2 separate regions of the Homo sapiens genome follow, and region 2 is linked to region 1. The links come from fine-mapping of genetic effects on gene expression. A gene starts in region 1. The other region holds a variant in brackets. All regions are shown on one strand. Distances are from middle to middle. Region 1 holds the start of CAPN1-AS1 (CAPN1 antisense RNA 1). Region 2 has its middle 11 kb from the start of SYVN1.

Region 1 (5,371 bases):
TTTTTTAGTAGAGACAGGGTTTCGCCATATTGGCCAGGCTCGTCTCTCGAACTCCTGACCTTATGTGATCCGCCCACCTCAGCCTCCTAAAGTGCTGGGATTACAGGGGTGAGCCACTGCGCTCAGCCTGTGGTATATTTGTAATCACTGATGAACCAATATTGACACAATATTATTAATTCAAGTCCATAGTTTACATTAAGGTTCACTCTTAGTGTTGTACATTCTGCAGGTTTGGATAAATGCATGTCATGCATCCGTCATTACAGTATCATACAGAATAGTTTCGCTGTGCTAAAAATGCCCTGTGCTCCATCCCTCTCCTACCCCTCTGAATCCCTGGCAACTGCTGATCTTTTTACCATTGCTAGTTTTGCCTTTTCTAGAACGTCATATAGAGTTATTGGAATCATACAGTATGCAGCTTTTTAATACCAGCCTCTTTTACTTAGCAATATGCGTTTAAGGTTATGCTATGTCTTTTTGTAGCTTGATGGCTGATTTCTTTGTATCGCTAAATTTTAAAGAAATTGCCAAACTGTCTTCCAAAGTGGTGGTGATCATTTTACCCTCTCTTGGTGTATGACAGCTCCAGTTCTTCTATATCCTTGACAACATAACAACACTTGGTATGGTTGATCTTAACTTTTAGCCATTCTAGTAGGTGTTCTTTTAGAAGCAGTCCTTCTAGTGGCTTTAATTTGCATTTCCCTAAGAGTAATGCACTCAGTGTTTTTTAATGTGCCTATTTGCCATCCAGAGATCTTTTTGGATGAAGTGTCTGTTCAAATGTTTTGTCCATTTTTTGACAGGCGCGGTGGCTCACCCTGTAATCCCAGCACCTTGGGAGGCAGAGGCGTGCAGATCACTTGAGGTCAGGAGTTTGAGACCAGCTTGGCTAACATGGTGAAACCCTGTCTCTACTAAAAATACAAAAATTAGCCTGGTGTGGTGGCGGGCGCCTGTAATCCCAGCTACTGGGGAGGCTGAGGCAGGAGAATTGCTTGAACCCAGGAGGTGGAGGTTGCAGTGAGCCAGGATCGCGCCACTGCATTCCAACCTGGGTGATGGAGCGGGACTCCATCTCAAAAACAAAAACAAACACCAGAAAACAAACAAATGTTTTGTCCATTTTTATTGGATTTTTATTCAATTGTAAAAGTTCTTTATACAAGTCCTACATCAGATAGAATTTTTACAAATATTCGTCCTAGTCTATGGCTTATCTTTTCATTTTTAATAGTTTCGTGCATTTTGAGAAACAAAAGCGTTTTATTTTGATGAAGTTCAATTTATTGATTTCTTCTATCATTTACACTTTTTGTGTCATATTTAAGAAATCTGGCCAGGTGCCAAAGCTCACACCTGTAATCCCAGCACTTTGGGAGGCTCAGGCAGGAGGACTGCTTGAGCCCAGGAGTTCATGACCAGCCTGAGTAACACAGCAGGACCCCATTTCTACAAAAAATTTAAAAATTAGCTGTGTGTCGTGGCACGTGCCTGTAGTCTCAGCTACTCAGGAGGCTGAGGTGAGAGGATCTCTTGAGCCCAGGAGTTTAAAGTTACAGTGAGCTGTGATCAGGGCACTGCACTCCTGCCTGGTCAATGAAAGCAAGACCCTGCCTTTAGAAAAGAAAAAAGAAATCTTTTCAAACCCAATATTGTTAAGATTGTCTCCATTTTTAAAAAAAAAAGTTTTATGGTTTGGCCATTTATATTTAGGTGTGTAATCCAGTTTGAGTTAAATTTTGATGGTGTATCCTAAATAGTTATCAAATCCATCTACTTCTGCCTGCCACCTCTCTAGTTTAAACCACCCTTCTCTGTCCCTGGACACCTGCGCAGAAAGCCTAGGAGCTGGTTCCACCCATCACTCACCAGGTTAGGTATTTCAGGCAAGTCACACCCTCTCAGGCCTCAGTTTTCCTCTTTTGTTAACTGAGGGTGAAAGTGGGGTTAGATTAGATCAGCGGCTCTTAACTTTTGAGGGGTCGTGGGCCCTAGAGTCCTGGGAACGCTATGCAGTTTCCTCAGCAAAATGCTTGCATCCACAACATGCAAGACTGCAGCAGCTGCTGGGCTGGGGCTGCGAGACCAGCGAAAAGCCCTGACTTGGGGGGGTCTCGGGAGTCTCTGCAGTCTCCCCACCCACACCCCCGGCCTCCGCGCCGAATCCTGGCCCCCCAACTTCTTGCAGCCCGTGAAGCAGGATCTCAGGGTCCTGGGGGTGGGGAGAGGGGGCTGCCGTCCTGCTCGCAGCCTCTGCCGCCCTCTCCTGGGTAAGGTGACACATGGGCGCTTCCAGGTGGGTGGGCTGAGAGCCTGGGGGAGAGAACAGGGATGTCCACCTCTCTAAGTTTCCAGGTTCAAGAAACCCCAGAACGTTAGAGAAAGATGGGCTCCCACAATTGCCCAACCCCATCCCATAGGATGCACGCATGCGGAAAGTCGGGCCGAACGGGGCAGGGACTTACCCAAGGTCACGCAGCGAGCCCGGTCCCCCTGCGTTCCCCGGGGAGCGCTGAGCCGGGACGCGGCGGTGGGGTGGGGAAGGGGAGTGGCGCGGCCCTGCGGGGTGAGGCTGCCGTTTGCTGAGTGTCCGGCAGGGGTCTGCTCGCTGCCAGCCCGGCCCCTCCTCAGAGCAGCTGCCGCAGCCCGAGGTAATCTCGGCCCCGCGCCGGGGCTGGCTGGGAACGGCGGGAGCAGCTGCGGTCGCGCGGAGCGAGGGGAGCTGGGGACCGGGCGGGCCCGGGGCTGCGGGAGGCGGCGCCGCCGCACAATCGCCCCGGAATGCCCGCCAGGGCGCGCGTGGGGTGCGGCCGTCCGGCCCTGCAACTCGAGCTGCTGCCCCTGGTTAAAAATACCCCCTGCCCGGCCCTCCCCCTCCGTTCCCCGCGGTGCCCTTCCGCCGCGCCCCAGCCCCCCCATCCCCCCCCGCGCTGGCCCCTCCCCGGGGACTGCTCTGCCTTTTACTAATTTGTCCTCTCGCGGAATTGGCCCCCGGCCTGCGGAGGGAGGGGCGGGGAGACACCGTGAGTAAGAGATAGTCAGAGACCGTGCCGGAGAGATAAGGGAGAGCCGAGAGGAAGCGGGGTAGGAGCCCCAGGAGGAGGAGGAGGAGAAGGAGAGAGGGAGGGCGGAGGGCGGAGGGGCGGCGGGAGGAGGGCGGGGAGGAGCGCTCTTCCTGGTTGGGCCCTGCCCTGAGCTGCCACCGGGAAGCCAGCCTCAGGGACTGCAGCGACCCCCAAACACCCCTCCCCCAGGTAAGAAGCTGGGTAGCCGAGCCGGGATTCCTTGACCCTGGCCACTGCTCCTGGGCTGAGGGGCTGCCCCAGCACGGTCCCTTCTCGGGGGCCTCTGCGTTCCTGGAGCAGGGGTGGGGGCTGGCGGAGCGGCACAGCCCAGGCGCCTGTCCCAGCCTGGCTCACCGCTGTCCCCAGGGGCTGGGCTAGGGCCCACCAGCTCTGATATCGAGCCTGCTGCGGGGGCCTGAGGAGGGGGACCCCGACCGTCTGGGGTTTTCAGCCCACGGCAAGGGGCCGGTGCACCAGGAGCTTGGTTAGTTTGGGGAGGGGGTTGCAGGCCTGTGAACAGGATCAAAGAGGCCTTCCCTGCTGTGTCCCACCTGCCCAGTTCCTTGTGCTGTCTGGAGGCTCCGCCCTGCCCCACCTGACCTGCTGGCTCACTACAGAGCTGCAAGCCCCTGACAATGGGATCCGGGAAAGGAGAGGTGGCCGGCACGCCTGGGAACTGGGAAATCCCTTTCCTGGATTCACTGGGAGCACCGGGAGGTGGCTGAGAACCCTACTTCTGTGAGGGGAGCAGTGAGGCAGGGAAACCCTAGGTTTGGGGATGGATAAGCAGGGGCAGGAGAGCAGAGCTTGCAGGCAGGAGCCCAGGTTCTAGTCTTGGGAAGGCCTGGGTTCTGAGCAGGCCCATCTGTCCGGCAGGATGTCGGAGGAGATCATCACGCCGGTGTACTGCACTGGGGTGTCAGCCCAAGTGCAGAAGCAGCGGGCCAGGGAGCTGGGCCTGGGCCGCCATGAGAATGCCATCAAGTACCTGGGCCAGGATTATGAGCAGCTGCGGGTGCGATGCCTGCAGAGTGGGACCCTCTTCCGTGATGAGGCCTTCCCCCCGGTACCCCAGAGCCTGGGTTACAAGGACCTGGGTCCCAATTCCTCCAAGACCTATGGCATCAAGTGGAAGCGTCCCACGGTGAGAGGGGCCATCCTGGGTGGGACTCGGCTAAGCCAGATCCTGGATGAGGAGTAGGGATGGGACTCCATGTCCCTGGTGGGGAATGGGGTCTGGGGTGGCCTGGTGCCAATTTCTGGGAGGGGCTGGCCGAGGAACAGGACTCTGGGTCTCTCGTAGGAACTGCTGTCAAACCCCCAGTTCATTGTGGATGGAGCTACCCGCACAGACATCTGCCAGGGAGCACTGGGTAGGCCCCCAGGGCGTCGGGTCCCGGGTATTTTTTCCACAGTAGTTCCCCATTCCCGCTCCTTCAGGCTCTGCCCCAACCCCTCCCTCTTGCAAGCCCAGGCAGGATCTGGCTATCAGCGCTGGGGCTGGTTTGCCCAGATTCCTGGGTCTTTTCTGCAAGCTGAGGGGAGTTAAGTGGCACCCTGGCCAAGGAACCCCAGATTCTCCCTAGCACCCGCTTCCCCCCCCGGGGCAGGTTGGTAGAGCAGGCTAATGTGCATCCCTCCTGCCCCAGGGGACTGCTGGCTCTTGGCGGCCATCGCCTCCCTCACTCTCAACGACACCCTCCTGCACCGAGTGGTTCCGCACGGCCAGAGCTTCCAGAATGGCTATGCCGGCATCTTCCATTTCCAGGTGAGGGCTCCCCTGGGGAGGAGGGGCAGCAGGCACTGGGGGAGATGCGGAAGGATGACCCACAATACCTGCAGTTAGGGCCACACCCTGTGGGGCCAGCCCTCCCTCTAGCAGGTATTTGACCTCTCAGTGCCATCTCGGGTCTGTCATGTGTGAAGTGACTGGGCTGGGCAGGTATTTCGGCTGGCAGTTTTCCTAGGTGGTTGTATGTATCAGGTGGAAAGTGCTTGAAAGAACAGAAAGACTTTTGTGTTATATCCTGTGGGACAAATTCCACTCCTCCCGGAGGTCGGTCTCAGTTGCCCCATCTGAGAAAGGAGTGTTCGCTGGGGAAAACAGATCAGCACGTGTGGCCTTCTCCACGTGTCAAGCCTCCTATCCCCCAACTCCTCCTGCGCTTTGGCAAGGTCTGACTGAGCCCAGCAGAAAAGAAAGACTCGGGATTAAGTCTACGTAAACCAGCTTTTCCTGACGGTGTGCCCAGGGCCCATTTTTCAAGTCACACCAATCAATTCTCAATGAGCTGCCT
Region 2 (5,371 bases), 35 kb before region 1:
TTATTTTATTTTTGAGATGGAGTCTTGCTCTGCCGCCCAGGCTGGAGTACAGTGGCGTGACCTCGGCTCACTGTAACCTCCACCTCCTGGGTTCAAGCGATTCTCCTGCCTCAGCCTCCCAAGTAGCTGGGACTACAGGCGCCTGCCACCACACACAGCTAATTTTTTGTATTTTTAGTAGAGACAGGGTTTCACCATGTTGGCCAGGATGGTCACCATGTTGGCCAGGATGGTCTCCATCTCTTGACCTCGTGATCCACCCGCCTCGGCCTCCCAAAGTGCTGGGATTACAGGTGTGAGCCACCATGCCCAGGCTTTTTTTTTTTTTTTTTTTTGAGACAGTGTCTTGCTCTATCACCCAAGCTGCTGGAATGCAGTGGCATGATCAGGGCTCGCTGCAGCCTCAAACTCCTGGGTTCAAGTGATCTTCCCACCTCAGCCCTGCAGAGTAGCTGGGACTACAGGCATGCGCCACTGTGCCTGGCTAATTTTTGTATTTTTTGTAGATATGGGGTTTTGCCATGTTACCCTGGCTGGTCTCAAACTCCTTGGCTCACGCGATCCACCTGCCTTGGCCTTGCAAAGTGTTGAGATTACAGTCATGAGCTGCTGCGTTCGGCTTAAAAGTTTTTCAACATTTTTGACAACAACATCTGGATTCTCACATTCTCCCTCCATGAAAGAGAAAATGAGGAACTATTCTCTCTCTTCCATGGTGGAACACTCCAGGTACTCCCAGCCTGGAAGGCCAGACCCTCCAACTTTCCCTGAATGACCCCCTCACCAAGAAGTGTGCATTGAATGTGGGACTGACCACACATGAGGTCAGTTTGTTGGTCTATCTAGACTGCCTTTGGACTTCCCTTGCCTCTGATCTCATTCCTTTAATTAACAAACATTTACTGAGGGCCTACTGTGTTCAGGCCCCAGGCCAGGTTCTGAGGACATTGTGGAGAACAAAATACATTCCCTGACCTCATGGAGCTTTCAGTCTCATGGTAGAGAGATCCACAAGCTAATTGCAGGTTATTTGACTGTCTGCTGAATGAATGCATTAGTGGAAGAATGAATGAGTAAAAGCTACATTGTCCAAATTCCTGTCCTGTCAGAATTGATGTTGACGTTCTTTTTTTTTTTTTTTTTTGAGATGGTCACTTACTTTAACAACAGTACATATACCATGTTATCACCATGAAATGTAAATTCAGGTTAGACAAGAAAATTTCACAAATGTAATAACATTCTATAGTTTATAAAAGTTTGGGTATACTGTCTGGCCAAACCAGCTTGCTCATAAGTCATTAATCAATTCCATTATAGGTAATTTGATTAGTTTAATGTTTGTAATTCTTATGGAAAAAATAAGCAATGCACACATTTAAAAAGTGCTCATTGGGCTGGGCACGGTAGCTCATGCCCGTAATCCCAGCACTTTGAGTGGCTGAGGCCCAGCGGATCACGAGGTCAAGATCGAGACCATCCTGGACAACATGGCGAAACCCTGTCTTTATTAAAAATATAAAAATTAGCCAAGGATGGTGGTGTGCACCTGTAGTCCCAGCTACTCAGGAGGCTGAGACAGGAGAAGTGCTTGAACCCGGGAGATGGAGGTTGCAGTGAGCTGAGATCACACCACTGCACTCCAGCCTGGTGACAGAGCGTGACTCCGTCTCAAAAAAAATAAAATAAAAGGTGCTCATTTACCTTTGCATGAGTGCTTAAATACATATTTCTATCTCAAGATGACATTTAAAAATTATTCAGATATAACAGCAGCAAAAATATAATTCTGCAATTACAAAATAACTAAACTAGAATCCATAAGTTATTCTCATGTTCACAACTGTGATTCTTTAATAAATACCACTACTATGCAGCTATAATGTAAGCTTTCTAGATTTGGTTTAAACACACACACATAGATACTGTCAGTTGTGGGAAGCTTTACAAGTTTTATTCCATGCACTTTTTAGACAGAGTTCTGAAAGAGCCAGCCAGTCCACAAGACAGGCAGAAAAAAAGTTAAATTAACTAGGGCAAATAGGACTCTTATATAACATCCGAAACATGTGAGATCCTGCAGCAAACTGGGAGTACTTCAGGGTTGGCTTGTTATATCCTTTAGAACTTAAGTTCATCTTCACAATTGAAGAAGGTGGACATTTCAACACCATCTAGTGCATTTAGGTGACATGTTTCTTTTATGCTAACTTGATTTCCTTGAATGACCTAGTTAGTAAACTAGTCACTAGTAATTAAGTCACCAGGCAAATCAAGCCTGCAAGAAAGGAAGCCAATATTCAAAATGCTGTGTTACCATCTAAACCCACTCAAATAGTTTATTTTCCACAATAACACATAACTTCAATAATGAGATGTCTAACTAAAGCAAGCTCCTCCAACAAGACCAAGACAGCATCTCTTCTTCTAGGGCTTAGGTTTTGCCCAGAATTCTCGATACATGGAATAGCCCATACCAATAGTCATTGCTCCTACAACAAAGCCTTGGGCTGCCACACGCATGTGGATCAGATGAAGGGACATTTGCGTATTTCCCCTGCTCTTCAATTTGTATAATCCATATGTAACAAGTGCTGCAAAACCTGCTATTCCAACGGGTACCAATGGTGTCTCTTTAGCTTTACGAATAAGTTTGGATCCCTGAGCTTCGTCATATGAAGAAAGGGAAACATCTGTGTCTGTTGATATAATGACTGCTTGAAGAATCTCCCGGCTGGGCGCGGTGGCTCATTCCTGTAATCCCAGCACTTTGGGAGGCTGAAGCGGGCGGATCACGAGGTCAGGAGATCGAGACCACCCTGGCCAACATGGTGAAACCCCGTCTCCACTAAAAATACAAAAATTAGCTGGGCATGGTGGTGCCGGCCTGTAGTCCCAGCTACTTGGCAGGCTGAAGCAGGAGAATAGCTTGAACCCAGGATGTGGAGGTTGCAGTGAGCCGAGATTGCACCATTGCACTCCAGCCTGGGCGACAGAGCGAGACTCCATCTCAAAAAAAAAAAAAGGAAGAAGAAGAAAACCTCTCACACCTGATGTCAACATTCTTTTAGTTAACATTTAACATGTTTTTCTTGAGTGCCAAGTATGTGACAGATTTAGAGCAAGGGTTTTTACAGGGCATACAATGTAACACCCTGTCTTTCCCTGACCAAGTTTAGTACCATCTGAAAAACAGACACATAGGATAGAGATAAAAATGTTACTTCTGTAACCAATAGAGTTGTTGAGAAAATGCATTTGAAGTCCCTGTACCC[G/A]TCCCAGAGCTGCACAGACTTACCCACTCTGCTCCCAAAGGTTTCTCCTTCTTTTGATGTAGGGTAGGCAAGCCCCCAAATTGGGGCTTAGCCCGGGAGGGTTCTTGGCTTTGTCCAGGAAATAATTCCAGGGTGAGCCAGTGCTGTTAGACAGACACTTTTAGTGAAGTGGCAGTGCACAGCAGCAGCAGATGTACTGTTCCTTGCACACCAGGGCTACCCCGAGTAGCAGCTCAGAGGTAGTTCTGCAGTCATATTTATACCCACTTTTAATTATATGCAAATTAAGGAGAAGATTATGCAGAAATTTCTAAAAATAAGGTGGTAACTTCTGAGTCGTTTGGTCATTAACACAGAAAGAGGCAGTAACTTCCAGGTGTTACCATGGCAATGGTAAACTGACATGGCACACTGGTGGGTGTGTCTTATGGAAAGCTGCCTCCACCCCATCCCTGTTTTAGCAAGTCCTCAATTTGGTCTGGTGTCCCAGCCCCACCTCCAGAATTGAGACCTGCCTCCTACCTCACTTTGGGTCCCATACATAGTTGCTTCTAACAACTTCACCAAGAAAACTCTCTTTTCTACTTCTTGGGAGGGGTGAGTGAGAGAAAGTGGGACAAGGCCACTTTTCTGCAGTGTTAGTTACTCCAGAAAAGGTCCACCATGTGGAAACAGATATAATGAGAAATAATCCTTAGTTTGTGTTAATCAAACCCAGTCAGTTATCCAACCAGTCAATTCCTCAATCCAAGCAGCATGAAACTGCACTCCTAGTTAGGTTTGTGGATTATAAATGCTCATAAATTCCTTATCCCGTCCCTCATGGAAAGGTGGGGTTTACTTCTCCACCCCCTTAATTCTGGACTTGGCCTATGACTTGCTTTGAACCAGTAGAATATGGTGGAAATGAAGCTGTGCCCAATTCTGGGCTTACCCTTTAAAACAGAACTGGCAGCTTCTGTTTTCTTCTCTTGGAATTCAGCCACCATGCTGTGAGGAAGCCCAAGCAGTCCTGTGGGGAGGCCCATGTAGAGGAGAATCAAAGCTCCATTCTCAGCCTTTTGGGTAAGATCAAGTGTAGTATCTGTTCTTATCAGTTTAATATCTGATATGTCCTCTATTCGAGGACACAATCTATATTAAATAGATTTTTGGAACTAAGAGATGGAATAGGAGCTTGCCCCACCCACTCCACACATTTACCTAGCATTGCAGTACCTCCAGGAACAGTGTACCCCTAAAGGGAGATAAAGTTTAAAAATGAAAAAAATAGGGAATAAAAAGCTCTAGCCCTACCATCCAATTGGCTGGGGGAATTTAAATAAATAAATAAATAAATAAATAAATAAATAAATAAATAGCTCTAGCCAGCATCAACTTGCCAGCCATTGGAGTGCACCATCTTTGAAGGGTCCTCCAGCTCCAAGGATGGAGCTGGAGGCACAAGAAGAGCTGTCTCAACCAGGCCTTGCCCAAATTGCATAATGGTAAGAAAATAAATGATTGGTATTGTCATAAGCCTCTAGGTTTGAGAGTGGCTTGTTTCACAGCCCTAATCTAATTTGACTCCCTGTTCTTGGCCCCAGACCCAGGGCCTGCCACAGAATAAGAACTCAGGGAGTGTTGAAGAAGTGAGTCAACAAATGATTGGGCTGAGCGTGGTGGCTCACGCCTGTAATCCCAGCACTTTGGGAGGCCGAGGCAGGTGGATCATCTGAGTGAGGTCAGGAGTTCAAGACCAGCCTGGCCAACAGGATGAAACCCCATATCTACTAGAAATATAAAAATTAGCCAGGTATGGTGATGCGTGCCTGTAATCCCAGCTACTCAGGAGGCTGAGGCAGAAGAATCACTTGAACCCAGGAAGTCGAGGTTGCAGTGAGCCAAGATAGCGCCACTGCACTCCAGCCTGGCTGACAGAGTTAGACTCTGTCTCAAAAAAAAAAAAAAAAAAAAAAAAAAAAAAAAAAAAAAAAAAAAAAAAAGACTGGATTGGCTAAGTGGATGATGGATGATTGAATGGTTGGATAAGTGAATTGTGTTAAGCCTGACAGGTCTAGAGTGATGAGCTGTGGCAGAATCAGGGGCTCAGAGTC

The links. PIP is the estimated chance that this variant, and not a neighbour inherited with it, causes the effect.
Region 2: its variant is fine-mapped to the expression of CAPN1-AS1 in whole blood (INTERVAL, PIP above 0.99).

What each region holds. Positions count from the first base shown.
Region 1 is chr11:65,178,751-65,184,121 of GRCh38, forward strand. CAPN1-AS1 (CAPN1 antisense RNA 1) reads right to left here and starts at 3,084. Exons shown (of 2, transcript NR_145677.1): 1 at 2,475-3,084; 2 at 1,121-2,322. It overlaps CAPN1 (calpain 1), which reads left to right and starts at 3,178. Exons shown (of 22, transcript NM_005186.4): 1 at 3,178-3,263; 2 at 3,951-4,218; 3 at 4,378-4,447; 4 at 4,724-4,842. The coding sequence starts at 3,952. RefSeq lists silencers at 2,497-2,946, 3,548-3,842 and enhancers at 2,865-3,654, 3,655-4,443, 4,444-5,233.
Region 2 is chr11:65,143,264-65,148,634 of GRCh38, forward strand. It overlaps the pseudogene HIGD1AP10 and the pseudogene RNU2-23P. Among named protein-coding and RNA genes, the nearest start is that of SYVN1, 11 kb to the left of the region's middle. The variant G/A (reference allele first, on the strand shown) is at 3,276.